Linked DNA regions of Homo sapiens. The protein of the gene in region 3 purifies or fractionates together with the protein of the main gene of each other region. This does not show direct contact. Each region holds a gene or a part of one and is shown on either strand. Other genes may lie near its edges. The genes, in order: DDI2, HERC3 and MOGAT2.

The links.
Region 1: the proteins of MOGAT2 (region 3) and DDI2 purify together in Homo sapiens (affinity purification with mass spectrometry; one large-scale study listed by BioGRID and IntAct). This does not show direct contact.
Region 2: the proteins of MOGAT2 (region 3) and HERC3 purify together in Homo sapiens (affinity purification with mass spectrometry, with the first as the bait; one large-scale study listed by BioGRID). This does not show direct contact.

What each region holds. Positions count from the first base shown.
Region 1 is NC_000001.11:15,630,831-15,634,482, reverse strand, and holds part of DDI2 (protein DDI1 homolog 2), read right to left. Parts: intron 1,045-3,652; coding exon 918-1,044; intron 1-917. UniProt on the Homo sapiens protein: Aspartic protease that mediates the cleavage of NFE2L1/NRF1 at 'Leu-104', thereby promoting release of NFE2L1/NRF1 from the endoplasmic reticulum membrane.
Region 2 is NC_000004.12:88,668,856-88,672,507, forward strand, and holds part of HERC3 (probable E3 ubiquitin-protein ligase HERC3), read left to right. Parts: intron 1-1,004; coding exon 1,005-1,168; intron 1,169-1,283; coding exon 1,284-1,397; intron 1,398-3,652. UniProt on the Homo sapiens protein: E3 ubiquitin-protein ligase which accepts ubiquitin from an E2 ubiquitin-conjugating enzyme in the form of a thioester and then directly transfers the ubiquitin to targeted substrates.
Region 3 is NC_000011.10:75,720,762-75,724,413, forward strand, and holds part of MOGAT2 (2-acylglycerol O-acyltransferase 2), read left to right. Parts: intron 1-3,652.

The DNA.
Region 1 (3,652 bases), on a different chromosome or scaffold from region 3:
TGTAATACAATGACCAAGTTAGGCTTCATTTAAGTAACCGGAATGATGACACGGTCCCTAAAAGGCCAAGCAGTCTAAGTGTAGTAAGTATCGTTGCTGTTATCTTCTTCTTAGTTATACTAAGTTCTTCACAATTAGCAACAAAAACTGACTTGAGGCAGGAAAAGCAGCTGTCCTTTTTTTCAGAGAATGACTGAACAGAATCTTGCTTGTGACTATCAGTGTGACTGAGGCCGGAACAGCGTCACTGTCCTTGCTTGAGCTCCATGCCCGACAATTCTGATTCATCAGATTTGGGAGAAGAGTCCAAGCATCTGCATTTTTAAAAGTTTCTCATGTGATTTTACTATAGCCCCAGGTGAGAACCACCGCATTACAGAAACTGAGAGCTGGAAACATGTCCAGCATTCAGTTTATCCACTGAGGCCAGTACAAGAAATGCAGCAGGAAAACAGACTTAGGACTACCAACGTTCCATCGGCGCAGAGCCCTCTCTAATCCAATCATGTTTAAGCCCTGGATTTAATCAGGACTTATACAATATGTCTAAAGAAAGAGAGTCAAATCAGCCCATGTAATATGCAACCAGCCTTGTGGTCTCACCAGATGGTGGCTTCTGCTCAGTCCGGGGGTCATTTATCTAAAGCTGTGTTATGATGCTCTGTCTGCTAGTCAGGGAGTCCTCCTTAAAATTTTAGAAAGAAAGTCATTAAACTAAGCACCTATATCTTTGTCATGTCAAATCGAAATGCATAGAAAATGAAAGAGGAGAGACTAACCTAAAAGACTGAGGTTACTATCTCAACTGCAAAACAGAGAAGCTACCTCCAAGCAGATGCCCAACCAATGTCAGATAACCTGCAGTCTGGGAAATCTGGAGTCTCTAAGTTTTGTTCTTTAGATGAACAGGTCTTTACCTTATATCTTCTTCTATCTTTGCCTGAGCTTCAAGGTCAAAGGGATCAGCAGAAAACAGACGAATCCTTTCTTGCTCTCTCCGGGCTCGGTCCTGCTGCTGCTCCACCAGGACTCTAGAAAATTTCTCTACAAAAATAAGGGAGAAAAATCTTAAATATCACTATATTTTCAACGTTTATCAGTACTTTTCCACACCAAACAATTTATCAAACTACATCTGTAAGAGATGCAGAGAGGATGCCTAAAGCTTATTTAAAATGAGCAATTACATTTACTTTCTGTTCTCTGAGTCAAGGCTATTTCATCATTTAAATTCAGTGTAAAGAAAGTATTTGTGGCTGGGTGTGGTAGCTCATGCCTATAATCTCGACACTTTGGGAGGCTGAGGTGGGAGGACCGTTTGAGCCTAGGAGTTCGAGACCAGCCTGGGCAACATAGCAAGACCTTGTCTCTACAAAAAATATAAAAATTAGTTGGGCGTGGTGGTGCATGCCTGTAGTCCCAGCTACTGTTGGATGGGGGTTCAAGGGTGGGGGGATGGCCTGAGCCCAGGAGGTCGAGGATGCAGTGAGCTGTGATCGCACCACACACTCCAGCCTGGGTGACATGGTGAGACCCTGTTTTTTTTTTTTTAAAAAAAAAAAAAAAAAAAGTATTTGCAAAAATTTTTTATAAGAAGTTATCTATCATATTGTTTCTACTCAGAGGTAACAACTTTCCAATTTAAAATGGTGGGGAGTGACCATGTGGCAGATCAATGTCTCCACTCCTCCATTCCTCATTGTTCTCATTATCCTACTACCTAGAAACAAAATACAGCATTATATAATCTCCTTTTCCTCTTCTAGTTTCATTTCTTTTATAACATGCCCTGCCTTAAGCCAGATACATTAAGTATAAACTATTTTTAGTCTACCTATATTTTGTGTGTGTTCTGATGAATTAATAGGCAGGAAAATTAGTAGAGAAAACACTGCTTGCTATAAGATGTATGTTACAACAAGAACCTATTTTGCAATTTCTTTTTTTTTGAGATGGAGTTTCGCTCTTGTTGCCCAGGCTGGGGAGCAATGGCGCAATCTTGGCTCACTACAACCTCCACCTCCCAGGTTCAAGTGATTCTCCTGCCTCAGCCTCCCAAGTAGCTGGGATTACAGGTACCTGCCACCACGTCCAGCTAATTTTTGTATTATTAGTAGAGACTGGGTTTCACCATGTTGGCCAGGCTGGTCTTGAACTCCTGACCTCAGGTGATCCACCGTGCCCGGCCTATTTTGCAATTTCTTAAATGGTGGTACATTTAAGTGTGCAAACTTAAATGCCCCATCATCACCATCTTTGGTGATTAGATATGCTGATATAAGAGATTAAAAGATATTATGACAATGGTTATCTGAACTACTAATGCACACAATACAGATGGATCTAAAAAGCATTAAGTTGAGTGAAAAGCCTAACACGAGCTGGGAGTGGTGGCTCACGCCTGTAATCTCAGTACTTTGGGAAGCCGAGACGGGTGGATCACGAGGTCAGGAGTTTGAGACCAGCCTGGCCAACATGGTGAAACCCAATCTCTACTAATAATACAAAAATTAGCCGGGTGTGGTGGTGCACGCCTGTAGTCCCAGCTACTTGGGACACTGAGGCGGGAGAATCGCTTGAACCCAGGAGGCGAAGGTTGCAGTGAGCAGAGATCGCGCCACTGCACTCCAGCCTGGGAGACAGAGTGAAACTCCGTCTCAAGAAAAAAAAAAACAAAGCCTAACACGAAAGAGCAGACACTCTATTATTCCATATACATGAAGTTTAAAAATACGGGAAACTAAACCATAAGATTATCAAAACAGTAGTAACCTATAAGGAGAGGAGATTGACTAGAAAGCAACACAGTGGAACTTTCTGGAGTGAGAGAAATGTCCTGTGTCTTGATTGGGGTTACAGGAGTTTGTCAAAACTCAAGGAATTGTATATTTAAAATCTGAGTACTTCGCTTAAGGTAAAGATTGCCAATTTAAAGACAGTCAATTGAGGAATGAGTCATTAAGTGTCTGTTATGTTTTTAGACTTAACCCAATTTAACTCATAAACCCAAGAGTAAAATGAGAGTAATTTACAGAGAAAACTCGATTCATAAAGATGGCTACAAGTTAGCTGGGTGCAACTGCTCATGCCTGTAATCCCAGCACTTTGGGAGGCCAAGGCAGGCAGACTGCTTGAGCCCAAGAATTCGAAAGCAGCCTGGACAACATGGCAAAACTCCATCTCTACAAAAAATACAAAAAATAACTTGGAGTGGACTGAGGTTATGGTGATTCCATTTTGCCATACAGGGCACTGAACCTTCCTGGCATCAGCTGGCATCAGCTGGCTTGTTGATGATCTCTTTAATTGAAGATCTAACTAAGGTTAAAATATCGGTACTGGCTGGGCATGGTGGCTCACACCTGTAATCCCAGCACTTTGGGAGGCCGAGGCAGGCGGATCACGAGGTCAGGAGATCGAGACCATCCTGGCTAACACGGTGAAACCCCGTCTCTAATAAAAATACAAAAAATTAGCCAGGTGTGGCAGCATGCGCCTGTAGTCCCAGCTACTTGGGAGGCTGAGGCAGGAGAATGGCATGAACCCGGGAGGCGGAGCTGGCAGTGAGCCAAGATTGCACCACTACACTCCAGCCTGGGCGAAAGAGCAAGACTCCGTCTCAAAGAAAAAACAAAGAAACAAACAAAAATCA
Region 2 (3,652 bases), on a different chromosome or scaffold from region 3:
AGAGATAAAAACAGAAATAATAATGAAAGCACTAGTAAATGTTAGTACTTAATTTTTTTTAAGATCAAAAGCCTTTTGGGGGCACATTTTCTCAGGTGTTCTAGTTGATGTGAAACAGAGAGGTGGCAATATCAGAAGAAATCTTACCTGACTTTCAAGTTTTAGAGTTTTTTCATTTTTATTTTTCCAGGCTGGAAAATACAAAGAGAACATAATTGTTCAATTTTACACTTTATTTTTAACTTCTAATTATTGATATTTAAAAGAATACCCCAAAGTAGAGAGTATGCTACAGGTAGTCACCACACAAATTCAGCAGTTGTCAGTATTTTGCCCATTTTATTTCATCTGTCCCTCGCCCTCACCACCTTTTTATTTTTTGTTGGAGTATTTTAAAGGAAATCTCAGACATACTATTTCATTCTTTAAGTATTTCAGTATGGCTGAGTTTATTTCCAACGAAGTATAAGCCAGTGGTATATCTTCTTGTCTGGTTATGAGAAAGCATTTTTTGGTGAGAAGTAAAAATCGTAGTTTTTCAACTAATGATACCTCTTAAAGGGAAGGGAATGGTTGCCATATTGGTGCTGCTTCTAGGGTATGTGGTGCGTCATCCTTTGCATTTCTGCTTCAGGATTTAGTGATGGCTGAAAGCGCTAGGACATAAGAATGCTTTTTGGATTAATACATTGGGCATCACTCCTGCCCAAAATATGTGTATCTTGTCCACATGTAGTCTGGAATTGGACTTTTAAGTTAACCTTCAGATTGAGTCTTTGCAAAAAATCAGACCAGGCTTTACAAAAAAAGCTCCAGGGATTCTTTTACAGCTGTTGTTCTCCCCAAAAAGGTTTTAATGGATTCTTTTTAAAGTCAGTTTTGGGAAAATGTATTTTAGACTAATGTTTATCTTCTAGACAAAGCAATTTTTAACTGGCAGGCAGAAGACATAAATACTTGCCCAAGATTACATGTTGAAATATGTCTTTTCTTTCTTTCTAAAGATAACTGGTGGTCTCAGGTATGCCCGAAATATTTCATGAAGCTGGTAAACCTCTATAAAGGTGCAGTCCTTTATCTACTGAGGGGAAGAAAGACATTCTTAATTCCCGTACTGTTTAACAATTATATCACAGCAGCTCTCAAACTCTTGGAGAAGTTATATAAGGTGAGCATAGGAGGTGCTAGTGGGGAGGGGGTGATTAGATGGTAGGGTAAAATGTCCTAGTGAGATGTTCTCTGGGAAGCCATGTTTCAGTTGTCTGTATTTTGTTCTTCATTAGGTAAATCTTAAAGTGAAGCATGTGGAATATGATACATTTTACATTCCTGAGATTTCCAATCTCGTGGACATTCAGGAAGACTACCTCATGTGGTTCTTGCATCAAGCAGGGATGGTAAGAATTCATAAAGCATATTTTAAAGCTTTAGTCTTTTTATAAGAAAAGCACATGTGAGCTGTATAATATGTCTTTGACTTTGATGTCAGTGTGTCACCTATTCTTCATCCAGCTGGCCTTTTGCATTCTAGAAACTTGGAAGTGCTTTAAGTAATCATCAATGTTATAAGGAGTCATAAATGAGTAGTCACCCAGAATGTTACACATTTTATCAGTTGCCCCCTTTAAAAAAATCAGAGTATCTAAAGTAGTCAAATCCACAGAAACAGAAAGTACAGTGGTGATTGCTAGGGGCTGGAGGCAGGGGAAAATGGAGAGTTGCTATTTAATGAGTATAGCTTCAGTTTTGCAAGATAAGAAAGTTTGGAGATCCAATTGTACACCAGTGTGACTATACTTAACACTGCTGAAAGTGTACACTTAAAAATGCTTAAGATGGTACATGTTATGTTAGGTTTTTTTTTAAACCATAATTAAAAAAACAAGACACATACAAATATGAATTTTTAGCTTTCCTCAAAACTTGGAAGATCTGGCAACACGACCTGTCTTCCCATATGACACCAAGTGGCTGGAGTTCAAGAGTGACTCTTTAGATGAGGCTTATGTATATGCCACAATTCCCACTGCAGCGTAATTTATCCCTGACATTGAGGAAGGGTCATTTGCTAATTATCATCTTCTGACAGCCTACTCCAGTCATCATATGTCAGCTACCTGGACCCCGTAGGCCCCTTCTGATTGAGAATTATGTGTGTGAAAGTGTCACACATCCCTGACCAAGTGCTGTCTCACCGTATTTTAGATATGCCATTCAGGGGCCTGTGGATTCCTGCCTACCACCTCTGGCGTGGCAGGAACTGCTCCTTTTGATAGCACACCAGCTTGGGATATATGCAAGGCTCTTTAGGATCTCCCATCTGTGGAGTATGTGCAAATTTGAGTTAGGTCAGAAAACAGAATGATAATTTGGTTATTGTATTTTGTGAAGCCATGTGCAGCAGATTTGAGGTGAGTCCTTGCCAGTGTAGCAGGTTCATCACCAGTATTAGGGCAATATTTTTCCTGTGGGGTTTTTGGAAGTCAGCAGTTGTCTCCAAAAGCAAGACATTTAAATAGGCTGATCTAACTGAACAAGAAGGATTGTTTTCTTTGTCAAATAATAGATGATGAATGCTAGACACAATGTTGTATTTTTTTCTCTAGAGACTTAAAAAATGCATACAATGTTTTATTTTTAAATAAGATTTTATGATTACCCTGAGAAAACAAAATACTTTTTTTTTGAGACAAGGTCTGGCTCTATCACCCAGGCTGGAGTGCAGTGGCACCATCTTGGCTCACTGCAACCTCTGCTTCCCAGGCTCAAGCCATTCTCCCACCTCAGCCTCCCGAGTAGCTGGGACTACAGGTGCGTGCCATCATGCCTGGCTAATTTTTGTATTTTTTGTAGAGATGGGGTTTTGTGATGTTTCCCAAGCTGGCCTTGAACTCATGAGCTCAAGTGATTCACCAGCCTCGGCCTCCCAAAGTGCTGGGATTACAGGGGTAAGCCACTGTGCCTGGCCAGGAAAATACTTTTTAATATAAATGAGTTAGAGTGTTCTAAATGGGCTGACTTGGGAAATTTAACATGGAGGCTAGTAATGAACTCTGTTTTCACTTTCAAATTTAGGAATTATTAAAAAATAAGCCCTTCTGTTTTATCAATTTATGAATAATTATTCACTGAATAATAACATTATGAGCAGAAAAATAAGCCTGATGAATTATTTAGTCCAACTGCTTTGTTTCTAGATGAGGAAATGGAAGTTAAACAATTTTTCCACTAATTTCATTAGTAGCAGTAAAAGTCAATTCTTCTGATTTCTAATCTACCCTTTCTGTGACTTGATGCTGAATAAAATAAGTCTAACAAATTGTAATTCTTTTTTACTCTGAAAAAGAAGTTGCTCATGTTAAAATCTAGATTATTATGACAGTAGTCTCTGAGTAGAGATATTTAAGTAACTTTTACAATATTTTAAACTTCCTTTCTTTTAACATTTGATAAATATCTTATCAGATCTTGAATAACAGATGCTCATCTCTTCAATAACTATAATAGTTATTAAAGAAATATGGAAAATTACATGAAATTAGTATATGGCCTTTTGTGATTTTTGTGGAATTTTTTTTATTGTATGAGGTACAATGCTATTAGAAATTGAATTTTAAATGTCTTGATATTTTGAAGTTTAATTTAAAATACT
Region 3 (3,652 bases):
TCCCCATGTATCTAGTAAGTACACTGATTCCTCCTCCTCTGCATGCCTTCAAATCTCTGGCTTTCCGACTCCTGTCACCTCGTGGTCATTGTGGACGCTGGGCCCTGGACTTGAAGTTGTGTCCAGAGCAGAGCAGATCCCTGGATTTGAGTGAGCAGATCTTTCGGCTCCTTCAACGGAATCCCAGGCAATTTAAAGCCTTGATCTATGCAGCCAGGCAGTGATGGTTTATTGGCCAGAAGGGATAGGATGGGGAAGGCAGTGGGGACGCAGAGAAGGGACAGGCAGGGGCAGTTGGCCCTCCTCTGGAAGCAGGAGAGAAGAAAGGGGTAAGATATGGCCCGTGGAGACAGGCAGACTAGATTCTGATCCCAAGTCTGCCCCATACCATATCAGCTGTATGATCGTAGGTAAGTTGGTCTCTCTGAGCCTCAGTTTCCTCATATGTAAAATGGGGATAATGACACATACCTCACTGGGTTGTGTAGATTCAATGAGACAAAGCAAGTAAAGCACTTTGTAGGTTTTCTTTTTTTTTTGAGATGGAGTCTCGCTCTGTCACCCAGGCTGGAGTGCAATGGCACGATCTCAGCTCATTGCAACCTCCACCTCCCAGGTTCAAGCAATTCTCCTACCTCAGCCTCCCGTGTAGCTGGGGCTACAGGTGCCGGCCACCACACCTGGCTAATTTTTGTATTTTTAGTAGAGACGGGGTTTCTCCATGTTGGTCAGGCTGGTCTCGAACTCCCGACCTTAGGTGATCTGCCCACCTTAGCCTCCCAAAGTGCTGGGATTACAGGTGTGAGCCACTGTGCCTGGCTAGCACTTTGTAGGTTTTCAGTAAACAGGTAGCTAGTATTATTTTACCTCGGCAGTGGGACTCTGAGGAAGTGTGGTCGTGACCTCGAGTCTGGGGAGGACTCTGAGAGCCCAAGCCCTGCTGCTCTGACCTCCACACCTACGTAACTTCTCCCACCCCGCCTGGGAACCCTACCTCTTCCTGTCCCATCAGAAACAAGGTCTCCAGCTTGCAAAGGGGGAGGGGTAGAGGAAACAAACCCACCAAAGTTAAGCAACTTGTCTGAATTATGGGAACGCAGGGTGGTTGGGGTTCCTGCCTTGCTCCCTTCTGAGAGTCCAGGGGCCCAAGAAGGACTAGCAAAGGCTGAGCCACAGCTGGAATGCAGGAGCCTCTAGCACTGCAGTGAGCAGGGCCTCCAGGGCAAAGGGCAATGGGGGTGCTGGGCAGACAGCGGGCAGCGGCTGGCAGAGACTGCCGTGCTCACGAAGGGTGGTAGATGTGGTAAGGCGGAACATGGTCTAGCCTGGGGGGCTCAGGATGGGGGCAGTTTCCCCTGCACCTCATATGTGTTTCCTGCAGGGCCCACTCCTGGGTCTTGTCAGCAAAGAAACTTAGGGCTTGCTGAGTTCTGGGAGCAGTCATGGACGTGTCAGAGGCAGAGTCCTCATCCCCACCCCAGGACCTCTGCACTTTGAGATTCACCTCCCTTTCCTGCCTCTCCTCTCTCCAGCCTGGGCTTCCTCTTCTGTGCCAGGAAGGTCAGAGTTTCCCTGGGAAAGTGTGCTGTGGCCAGCCTGGGGACGTGTGTGTGACATCAGGGACCAAGCCAAAGAAAACCTGAAGCAGGCTCTGGCCTCCGGGAGAGCTTCAGAGGTTCTGGCTCTGGTCTCACTTCCCACTCTTGAGCTGAATCCCAAGCTCACCGGGGGGGAAAGGAAAAGCAGCCTGAAAAGGCAAACACACAAGCACAGGCCCAGACACTTGCCGCAGGGTGAGTTCTGAGCCACAGCCTGACATTCAGCGCGGCTAAAGCAGAAGGCAGGCCTGCAGAGGAGGCTGGGGAGGCCCTCAGGTCAGAGGGTGGAGGCCATTGGAGGACATTCCGCAGGACTGGGACTGCTCACCTGAAAGTTCTCCCGGGGTGTCTTCAGCCAGCCCAATGGCCTCAAAGGACAGCATCTGGCCCTCTTTGCACCTGGAGCATTTCCATTTGCAGGTCTGGCAGAAATGCTGAGGCAGCTCTGCGCCTACCCTATCAACGTCCGTCCTTCCTGCTCCTTCCCCAGCCAGGTGGCTTTTGAGGAGGATATCTCAACCTTAGTACTGTTGACACTGGTGGGACACAGGCCTCGATTTGCAGAAATTCTATGTGCATCTTTTTGTTTCTTTGTTTTGGTTTTGTTTTTGTTTTTTTCGAGACGGAGTTTCACTTTTGTTGCCCAGTCTGGAATGCAGTGGCGTGATCTCGGCTCACTGCAACCTCCACCTCCCAGGTTCAAGCGATTCTCCTGCCTCAGCCTCCTGAGTAGCTGGGATTACAGGTGCCCGCCACCACTCCCGGCTGATTTGTATTTTTTTAGTAGAGACGGGATTTCACCATGTTGGCCAGGCTGGTCTCGAACTCCTGACCGCCCACCTTAGCCTCCCAAAGTGCTGGGATTACAGGTGTCAGACACTGCACCTGGCTCTGTGCACTGTTTTGTTTTTTGTTTTTTTTTCCAGGATCCTTCCTCACCGCAGGCCCTTTGCAGCACCATCTGCCGAGGGTGACAATGCCACTGAGTGGCCAGCAGAGGGCGAGATGATGTTCATTTTGACTATGTCCTAAGCTGGGCCTGTGGGGTGGGGCTGTGGCCTGTAGACGCTCTTTCCATAGACCCTCCCACCCTCCCACACGCCTTTACTGCCCAGGCCCCGCAGGGATCATGGGGTGAAGAGACAGTAGGGATCCTCATTCCTGGGCTCAAGCAATCCTCCTGCCTCAGCCTCCCAAGTAGCTTGGACTACAGACACGCACCACCACAACTTTTAAAAAAATGTTTGTAGAGATGGAGTCTCACTGTGTTGCCAGGCTGCTTGGCCTCCCAAAATGCTGAGATTAGAGGTGTGAGCCACCACACCTATCCCACACCTTTTAAATATACTGAAACCCTGAATGTCATACTTTAAACGGATGCATTTTATGGTGCATAAATTATATCAACTAAAAGCAATAGCAGCCCCCAGAGCCTAGTAACCTGGCTGTGCCCTTCTCCAGGCCCCACTGCCTACTGCACACCCAGCCTGCCAGGGCATGCACCCAGGCAGGATTTTCCCCAGACAGCCATCTATCTTCGCTTAGTCACACTCCCCTCGCCTAACAGAACTGAGGGAGGGAGACAGACCACAGCACTTCACAAACCTCCCCTCTTCTTTGTTTACCCCCCTTGAACCCTGTAGCAACCCTGCCAGGGAGGCGTTATCAGTGTCCTGTGGGACAGAAATAATTGAGCCACAGAGGGGACAGGGGCTTGGCAATGGTCATGTGATGAGCCAGCGGCAGAACCGGGGTCTCCTGACTCAAGGTTCTTTTTCCCACTAGTGGAACCCTGGTGACATGCCAGGATAGGATTGGGGTCAGGGAGCCTTCCTTCTGAGGCTGTACCAGCCTCATCCATTGGGCTCATTCCTTCCTTCCTTCATGCTATACCCTTTCCAGAGCATCTCCTCTGTTCCAGGCCTGCACTGGGGACACAGATGCATCAGATACATGGTCTGTAATCTTCACAGGGATGTTGTGATAGATTTGGGTCCAGGGGACAGATGGAAGAGGTTAGCACAGAAAGATACCAATAGAGACCACATCTAGGG